Homo sapiens: one gene and its partners. The protein of the gene in region 3 interacts with the protein of the main gene of each other region in a biochemical or structural test. Each region holds a gene or a part of one and is shown on either strand. Other genes may lie near its edges.

Region 1 (2,712 bases), on a different chromosome or scaffold from region 3:
GCTGGGATTGCAGGCGTGCACCACCAGGCCAGGCTAATTCTTTGTATTTTTAGTAGGGACGAGGTTTCACCACGTTGGCCAAGCTGCTCTGGAACTCCTGGCCTCAAGTAATCCACCCGCCTTGGCCTTCTGAAGTACTGGGATTACAGGCTTCAGCCACCGCACTCGGCCTTAAGTTTTCTAATTCTATATATTTTAGAAGTGTTTGGAGAGGTCTTCTAAGGAAAATAGTCATGAGATTTCCCAATATATAAAGGTTGAGAATCACTAATAATATGTCAGTAATGGAAAAAGCAGAGGAAACTGTTTTGTAATTCATAATAAATTTGTCCATTAAGTTATTCTATATTTTCAAATTTACTTATACTTTTATGATGGATAATAGGCCATTTGGTGGACTAAGTACCCACAGTTTATTCTTTCCACCAAATTTCAACTGCAAAAGTTTCTCTTGGCTATGCTTACCTTACTTTCTGCAATAGTTGTATTTGTTTTTTAATCTTTTATTTTTTTGAGACAGAGTCTTGCCCTGTCACCCAGGCTGGAGGGCAGTGCCACAATCTCAGCTCACGGCAAGCTCTGCATCCCCGGTTCAAGTGATTCTCTTGCCTCAGCCTCCCAAGTAGCTGGGACCACTGGCGCATGCTACCATACCCAGCTAATTTTTGTATTTTTAATAGAAAGAAGGTTTTGCCATGTTGGCCAGACTGTTCTCAAACTCCCGACCTCAGGTGATCCACCTGCCTAAGCCTCCCGAAGTACTGGGATTACAGGCATGAGCCACTGTGCCTGGCCAATAGTTGTAATTTTTTTTTTTTTTTCCTGAGACGGAGTCTTGCTCTGTTGCCCAGGCTGGAGTGCAATGGACTGATCTCAGCTCACTGCAACCTTTACCTCCCAAGTTCAAGTGATTCTCCTGCCTCAGCCTCCCGAGTAGCTGGGATTACAGGTGTGTGCAACCATGCCCAGCTAATTTCTGTATTTTTAGTAGAGACGGGGTTTCACCATGTTGGTCAGGCTGGTCTCGAACTACTGACCTTGTGATCCACCCGCCTCAGCCTCCCAAAGTGTTGGGATTACAGGCGTGAGCCACAGCGCCTGGTCAATAGTTGTATTTTTAAAGCATACATAAATCATTGTTTTAAATGACATAGAGTCATTTAAAATGGATTAGCACTTGTATATACTTGCCTTATCTAATTATTCCCCCATTTGATCTTCTATAGAAATCTTTATACACATACAGTCATCCCTTGGTATCTGTGAGGGATTGGTTCCAGGACCCCTGCAGATACCAAAATCCATGGATGCTCGAGTCCTTTATATATAAAATGGTGTAGAGCCAGGTGCGGTGGCTCTTACCTGTAATCCCAGCACTTTGGGAGGCTGAGGCAAGAGGATCACTTGTGCCCAGGAGTTCAAGACCAGCCTGGGGACCCCAGTGGGACCTTATCTCTACAAAAAATTAGCTGGGCGTGGTAGTGCAGTCCTCTAGTATCAGCTATGTGGAAGCTGAGGCAGGAGGATCACTTGAGCCCAGAGGCTGAGACTACAGTGACCCATGATCATGCCACTGCACTCCAGCCTGGGCAATAGAGTGTGAGACCCTGCCTCAAAAAATAAATAAATAAATAAATAAAATCATGTAGTATTTCCATGTAACCGACACACTTCCTCTGATACACTTTAATCTCTTGATTACTTATAATACCTAACACAATATAAATACTATGTAAATAGTTGTTACACGGTATTGTTTTAAAATCTGTAGTATTTTCTCTTGTTATTTTTTAGTTTCTTGTTGTTTTCAAATATTTTCAATCCACAGATGGTTGAATCCATGGATATGGAAGGCTGACTATGTGCATACACATATATTTATGTGTCTATATAACCACATGGAATATCTTTTAACAAAATTAATTTTAAAGTAAACTATCAATATTTTGCATTTAACAAGTTTGAAACATAAAATATATGTAGATTTATGAGGCTTATTTTTATATTAATGGAAGTGTTACCATGGGAGAATGTTTCAGTTTTCCCTGTTAGCCTCGATGAGAACAAGAGTGCAATAAACAGAATGGTTGATATGGGAAAGGCTGGTGGCTAGAAGGCTAATGCCATCTCTGTCTTTAATTTAACATTATAGAGCAGCCTGTAAGAAGGGCTTTTCCTTCACTGTTACCTATTTTTACCTCAAGTACTTCTGCTACTCCCTTATAGTCAACTGAAACTCTTAAGAAATATCATAGAAAATCACAGAAAATCCTAATATGACTAGTACAGAATTCTTTTTTTTTTTTTTTTTTTTGCTTGAGACAGAGTCTCGTTCTGTAACCCAGGCTGGAGTGCAGTGGCATGATCTCAGCTCACTGCAACCTCCGCCTCCTGGGTTCAAGTGATTCTCCTGCCTCAGCCTCCTGAGTAACTGGGATTGCAGCCATGCACGACCACACCCAGCTTTTTTTTTTTTTTTTTTTTTGATACAGAGTTTCACTCTTGTTGTCCAGGCTGGATGGAGTACAATGCCGTGATCTCTGCTCACCGCGATCTCCGCCTCCTGGGTTCAAGCGATTTTTCTGCCTCAGCCTCCCCAGTAGCTGGGATTACAGGCATGCGGCACCACGCCCAGCTAATTTGTTGTACTTTTAGTAGAGATGGGGTTTCTCCATGTTGGTCAGGCTGGTCTCGAACTCCCAACCTCAGGTG
Region 2 (3,500 bases), on a different chromosome or scaffold from region 3:
CTGAAATTTAATATTGTTAATTTATTTTTGATTTCCTACAGGTGAACTGGCACAAAGGTTAATCTCAAGATGCCGCTAGTGAAAAGAAACATCGATCCTAGGCACTTGTGCCACACAGCACTGCCTAGAGGCATTAAGAATGAACTGGAATGTGTAACCAATATTTCCTTGGCAAATATAATTAGACAACTAAGTAGCCTAAGTAAGTATATATCAATTAAAAATATACTCACAAACCAGAATGTTATGCTTTAGCGTATTAAGAAGTTGTGCTTCTGATTAATTTGGGAGTATGATTTGGTGAGAAGAGTACAAAATTATCCTGAAAAATATAGTCACATGAGTATAATTATTGAGTTTTACAAGAACCTCTTCTGCATGATGTTTCTTCTGGGAAAGGAAAATACGGACAGAATCTCTAGGAACAGAAACACATGATGAATGAAAATTATTGAGATTGTTTTAAAAATATATAATCTGCGAAAGGACCAGAGTTGTACTTTTCCTTGGTTATTATCACTATTTACTCTGTTTAGAGGCCTCAACTATTTGTGTTTTCAAACACTAGTATCCCTCTCTTTATATATATATTTAATTAGTTTAGGGAAATATTTTTATATTAGCAAAGATCTAAGGTGAGAGGTATGGGGTCATTATTAGTCAGAGGGGTAGGCTAGTCAAGTGGGATGTCTAAGAGACATTAGGATATAAGTCAGGAATCTGATATGCAGCATTGTGTGAAAACAGCAAATGAACTTGGCCTCTGGCAGACAGAAGTCAAGCAGGTTGGCCAGAGAATAAAGGCCAGTGAAAGAGGCAGATTAGGGAGAAGGAGACAGGCAATATGTTCTCATTGCAGATTTACAGAATAGAGCAACTTGGTTAAGGAATTAAACAAATTATTTTCTATTCTAAGTTTATTTAGAAAATTTAAAAAATCTGGTCTGTCTTTTGCATTGAAGGATTAGCTTTTTCATAAGACATTGATATTTCATTTTAAAGGTGAAACAAGGTGTTCTTGGCAGAGATAATATCCACCAAGTGGTCCTAGATTTATCTCATCAGCCATATAAATTCTCCTGATAAGCAGGCTTGGCTTTTCTTTTCTTTTCCTTTTAACTTTTGTCCTTTCTTTTATAATTGAGTACTTAGCACAAGAGGTTGTTAATCTAATTTGTTTCCGGTAAGAAAGTTTAGGCATACCTGTAGCGAGAGCAACATAAAAAGTTACATTTGAATATTCTCTGTGAGAGTACTAAATTTTTGCATTGCCTGTGAAATAGTAAGAATAAATAAAAGGCTATTTTATTTGAATTTTAAGTATATTCCTTGTTCCATTCAGTGGTCATTTTTTTCAGGTTAGTGAATCACTAAAATATTGTATTGTTTACTTGAGGCTAATAAAAAAAGTGTTAGAGTTCCCAGTTTAAATATGATTAACTATATTGTTTAAAGATATTTTGCAGATTTTTTGTGACCTAGCACGGATTGAATCAAGTATAACATGATGTCATATAAAATTTGTTTTATATATGTTATGTACATACATAAGTATATAAGCATGCTAATATTAAAATACATGTTAAGAACATAGAAATGGCATTAGTAATTTTGTATAACATATTTCTTAAAATGAATTGTGGATCCAGTACAGGCATCTTATTTTAGGTATATACCCAATATAGAATTTAGAACTAATATTGTGATTAAGGGTGATAATTTGCAGTACTAACCCATTTGTTACAAAACTTAAAGATGAAAATTTAAGGAATTTTTAAGTCTATATAGTCCATATAAGCAACATCTATCAGCAGGCACATGGTTATGCTGTAGCGAAACTCTGAAAATTATAAATACCTTGTAACAATATAACTAAATTAGGTGTTGGGTGCTTCACATTTAGAATCAGAGACCTGGAAGGCATTGTTTAAGCAGTTTGTAGAGATTCAAAAACAAAGAGAAAACCCATAAAATATTCTAGCAAGGTGTGACAATAGCTTACTGCCCTGAAATTAACTTCTCTGGCAGCTTTCCCACTTGACATAGTTGAGAACCTGGAATTAAATTTAAAAGGCCTCTAGATAGCCAGAATAAATAAACTCATGCACTAAAGACCATGCACATAAAATAACCAATTGATCCCTCTCTCAAAACCTGTTTACTTTTACCTTGATAGTTCAAACAGATTTGATGATGTGGTTTCCAAACAGTTATGCTTCAGAGGATAAAAGGAGGAAGCATGGGAGGAGATACTAGAAGGAGGCATCACTGAACCCAACCAAAAGGAGGTAGTTCACAGGAAAGGACAAAGTGATGTAAGGGAAGATGCAACATAAAAACTGGAAAGAAGCCATTTAATGTAAAGCAAATATCCTTATACATTTCAAGGCTGTTTTCTGGCCTAGGATAATATTTGATTTTCATAATTCATGCCCGTGAGTCCCTAAGAAAAAATTAAATTATGTTTAATTTTATATTCCATTTAAGAAGAGGGAAGCTTAGAATACATTTCACAAGTTTCCATCGAAAATAGTTAAAATAACAATTGATGTATTAGATAATAAAATCTGAATTACTTAGAAAACTTGGCTATCCAAAATGTTTCTAGATAATGGAGATTTTCACTTTGGTGCTATTATTAGTACTGAAAGTGCTTGAGAATATAGCAATGAAAGTAAACTGCAGGGATCCACATGGCTCAGGGCTGGATATCTTCCTGACCTTTTCCTCACAAAAATGTACTTCCTTTTTTTATTTTTTTGAAACAGAGTCTTGCTCTGTCACCCAGGCTGGAGTGCAGTGGTGCGATCTTGGCTCACTACAAACTCCACCTCCCAGGTTCAAGCAATTCTTGTACCTCAGCCACCAAAGCCGCTGGGATTACAGGCGAGTGCCATCATGCCTGGCTAATTTTTGTATTATTTTTAGTAGAAATGGGGTTTTGCCATGTTGGCCAGGCTGGCCTTGAACTTCTGGCCTCAAGTGATCCACCCGCCTCGGCCTCCCAAAGTGCTGGGATTACAGGTGTGAGCCACCATACCCAGCCAGTACATCTGTTTTTTGTGAGATTTTTCCTAGTAGAACATAATTCTGTTTTGTATTAGGTAATTACCACAAACCTATAATTCACTTTATATCAATTTCCTCTTTCTCATTTTATTGCTTTCTTAATGATGCAAGGTTTTTTACTCCTTAGCTGAGCTAGGTCCAGGTTCTTGTCTCACGATGAGGAAGAATTAGGCACACAGATACTCTAAGAGTGAATGGAGTAGAATTTATTAAGTGAAAGGAAAGCTCTCAGCCAAGAGAGGGGTCCTGAAAGCAGGTTCCAGGTTGCCCCGTCACAGTTGAATACAAGGGCATATATATATATATATATATATATATATATATATAGAGAGAGAGAGAGAGAGAGAGAGAGAGAGAGAGAGAGAGGAGAGAGAGGAGAGAGAGGAGAGAGAGAGAGAGAGAGAGAGAGACGCTGATGGGGCTGGGTTCCC
Region 3 (3,500 bases):
TACTTGGAAGGCTAAGGGAAGAGTATTGCTTGAGCCTAGAAGTTCAAGGCTGCAGTGAGCTATGATTGCACACTGTACTGAAGCCTGAAAGACAGAGTGAGACCTTGCTTCTAATAAACAAAAACAAGGCTGAGTGCAGTGGCTCACACCTGTAATCCCAGCACTTTGGGAGGCAGAGGAAGGAGGATCACGAGGTCAGGAGACTGAGACCATGCTGGCTAACACGGTGAAACCTGTCTCTACTAAAAACACAAAAAATTAGCCGGACGTGGTGGCGGGCGCCTGTAGTCCCAGCTACTTGGGAGGCTGAGGCAGGAGAATGGCGTGAACCCAGGAGGCGGAGCTTGCAGTGAGCCGAGATCACACCACTGCACTCTAGCCTGGGTGACAGAGGGAGACTCCATCTCAAAAAAACAAAACAAAAACAATAAAAATAACTCAAAATGGATCACAGACCTAAGGTAAGAGCTAAAATTCTGACTGTCTAGAGCTGTACTGCTCAATACATTAGCCACGAGTCAAATGTGGCTGAGCACTTGAAATGTTGCTAGTATAAACTTAGATGTGCTATAGATGGAAAACATACATTAGATTTTGAAGACAGTATTAAAAATGTAAAATATCTCATTAATAAAGTTTTATATCACTTAGATGTTGAAACAACATTTTAGATATACTGAGTTAAATGAAATATATTAAAATTAAGTTCACCATTTCAAATATCTACTGAAAGTTTTTATTTATTTATTTTTTTTGAGACCAAGTCTTGCTCTGTCCCCCAGGCTAGAATGCAAGTGGCATGATCTTGGCTCACTGCAACCTCTGCCTCCCAAGTTCAAACGATTCTCGTGCTTCAACCTCCCAAGTAGCTGGGATTACAGTTGTGCACCAGCAAACTCAGCTAATTTTTTTTATTACTTTTTAGTAGAGACGAGGTTTCGCCATGTTGGCCAGGCTGGTCTCGAACTCCTGGCCTCAAGTTATCTGCCTCAAGCTATTCAGCCTCCCAGAGTGCTGGGATTACAGGCGTGAGCCACCCTGCCTGACCAAAAATTTTTAAAATTACATATGTGGCTCACATATTATTTCTATTGAATAGTGCTGGTCTTAGAAGTAAACTTAGGAGAACATATTATTGATTTTGCAAAGATTTCCTAAAATACAGCAGCAAAAGTACACAACTACAAAGAAGAAAAGATGATAAACTGGACTTGTCAAAATTAAAACCATTTTCTCTTCAAAAGATACCATTAAGAAAATGAAGGCCAGGTGCGGAGGTGCACACCTATAATCCCAGCACTTAGAAGGCCAAGGCGGGCAGATGGCTTGAGCTCAGGAGTTCGAGACCAGGCTGGGCAATATAGCAAGACCCTGACTGTAATTTTTTTAAAAAAGGCTGTAAATACTATTTATTGGTGAGAATGCAGAGAAACTGGAATTTTCATACATGGCTGGTAGGAATACAAGACAGTACAGCCATTTTAAGAAACAGTTTGTTATGAAGTTAAAATATAATTTAGCAATTGCACTCTTAAGTATTTACTAAGGAGGCCAGCCTGGCCAACATGGTGAAATCCCATTTCTACTAAAAAAACACACACATGCACAAAATTAGCTGGGCAGAGTGACACGTGCCTCTGGTCCCAGCTACTCGGGAGGCTGAGGCACAAGAATCGCTTGAACCTGGGAGGCAGAGGTTGCAGTGAGCTGAGATTATGCCACTGTACTCCAGCTTGGGCAACAGGGCAAGACTGTATCTCATTAAAAAGAAAAAGTAATGGGAGGCTGAGGCAAGAGAATAGCTTGAACCTGGGAGGTGGAGGTTATGGTGAGCTGAGATTGCGCCATTGCACTCCAGCCTGGGCAACAAGAGGAAAACTCCGTCTCAAAAAGAAAAAAAAATTACATTTGTACAATGAAATATTATTAGCAATAAAAAGGAACGATCTACTGATACATACAACACGAATAAATCTCAAAAATATTATGCTAAGAGAAAGAAGCCAGACACAGAGACTATACATTACATGATTTCATTTATACTAAATTGTAGAAAGGAATTTCTACAGTGACAGAAAACATCAATGGTTTCCAGGAATGTGAGTGTGGGGGAGGGTACTGACTGCAAATACAAAACAAGGAACTGTATGGGTGATGGAAATACCACTTGGGGATGGTTACAAAACTCTTCCGATTTGTACACTTAAACTTAGTAATTTTATTGTATGTAAAATACACTGTAACAAAGCTGATCAAAACAAATGAAACAACATAAAATGTAGTTTCTGATTCAGCAGGTCTGGTGGGGGGCTCCAGAACTTGCATTCCTAACAATTCTAACATCCTCAGATGATGCTGATTGCTGCTGGTCCTGGGACCTCACTTTGAGAAGCCTTGGTCCAGTGAGAGACATTGACAAAAGGGACCTACAATAAGCCCCTTTTAATATCATCTTAATTAATGTCCATTCTGTACCACTACCTATCTACCTTGAAGATAGATAGCACTCTATCTTCAAGAGCACAGACCATGAAGAAAACACTATTGACTTCTCACATCTCCTGACATACTTCCTGAAAACCCAGTATGAGACAGGCCTAGAACCTTCAGGATGACTTGAAGGTCCTTTGAATGTTACTTAAAGCACCTTAGGTTCAGAAGCAAATGTGGCCAGTTAACATCTCCCATTTCTGAATCTCAGCACTACATTCTTACCATACCAGGATACCTGCTCTGAAACACAGCTCACACCACTGGCCTTTGCTAATATTGTTTTCTTGCTCTGAAGGACCTTTCCCTGATCCCAAACATTGAAATTGCACTTGTTTTTTAAGCCCATCTCAAATGGCATTTCCTCAATGAAACCATATGTATTACTTCCATTTCTATGTTCTCACTGTCGTTCATACTCTCCTTCATTATAGTGCTTATCATATCTGGTCCTACCTATCTTAATAAATGTTTATAGAATATTCCAATTTCTAATTAAAAGAATTATTAATAGTAACGGCTCCTAGAAAACAAATACATTTAGAGATGTGACTCAGAGTAGACATCATATTTTTGTTAGTCCTTTATCTCTTCCAAGGGAGCTTTTTTCTCCCCTTTTATGGTAAGTCTGATTAGTCCTTGTGTTCTAGTGGGGCCAACTCCACCCACAGGACCCACACCTGACCAATCTGAGCCTTTCCTCCTCGTAGTCTCAGTACTGGGTTCTAGGATAAGCATATCACCCAACCTAGACCAACCATGTATCTTCTCCGTGCTCTTGAGCCAGAACCATAGGCAGATAAGCTTATACCTGGAAAAGTCCAATACTATTTATGTTTAATTAAAAATACAAACACAGCGGACAAAGAAAATTATCAGACAGTACTCATTACAATGATCTAGCCCACTGTTTAGTAATCTTTACATCTTACAAATTTGGTTAATCACTGAAGACTGTGAACTCTGATTTGTGTTAGATTAGCCAAAAGGATGCCTTTGTGTCAAATATA

Evidence for each region. Proteins that work in one complex are often made in the same cells at the same time.
Region 1: the proteins of PRKAR2A (region 3) and CHD8 form a complex in vitro, tested with the Homo sapiens proteins (one study listed by BioGRID).
Region 2: the proteins of PRKAR2A (region 3) and WASF1 form a complex in vitro, tested with the Homo sapiens proteins (one study listed by BioGRID).

The regions. Positions count from the first base shown.
Region 1 is NC_000014.9:21,387,412-21,390,123, reverse strand, and holds part of CHD8 (chromodomain-helicase-DNA-binding protein 8), read left to right. Parts: intron 1-2,712. UniProt on the Homo sapiens protein: ATP-dependent chromatin-remodeling factor, it slides nucleosomes along DNA; nucleosome sliding requires ATP. Acts as a transcription repressor by remodeling chromatin structure and recruiting histone H1 to target genes.
Region 2 is NC_000006.12:110,124,171-110,127,670, reverse strand, and holds part of WASF1 (actin-binding protein WASF1), read left to right. Parts: intron 1-41; 5' UTR 42-69; coding exon 70-202; intron 203-3,500.
Region 3 is NC_000003.12:48,760,875-48,764,374, forward strand, and holds part of PRKAR2A (cAMP-dependent protein kinase type II-alpha regulatory subunit), read right to left. Parts: intron 1-3,500. UniProt on the Homo sapiens protein: Regulatory subunit of the cAMP-dependent protein kinases involved in cAMP signaling in cells. Type II regulatory chains mediate membrane association by binding to anchoring proteins, including the MAP2 kinase.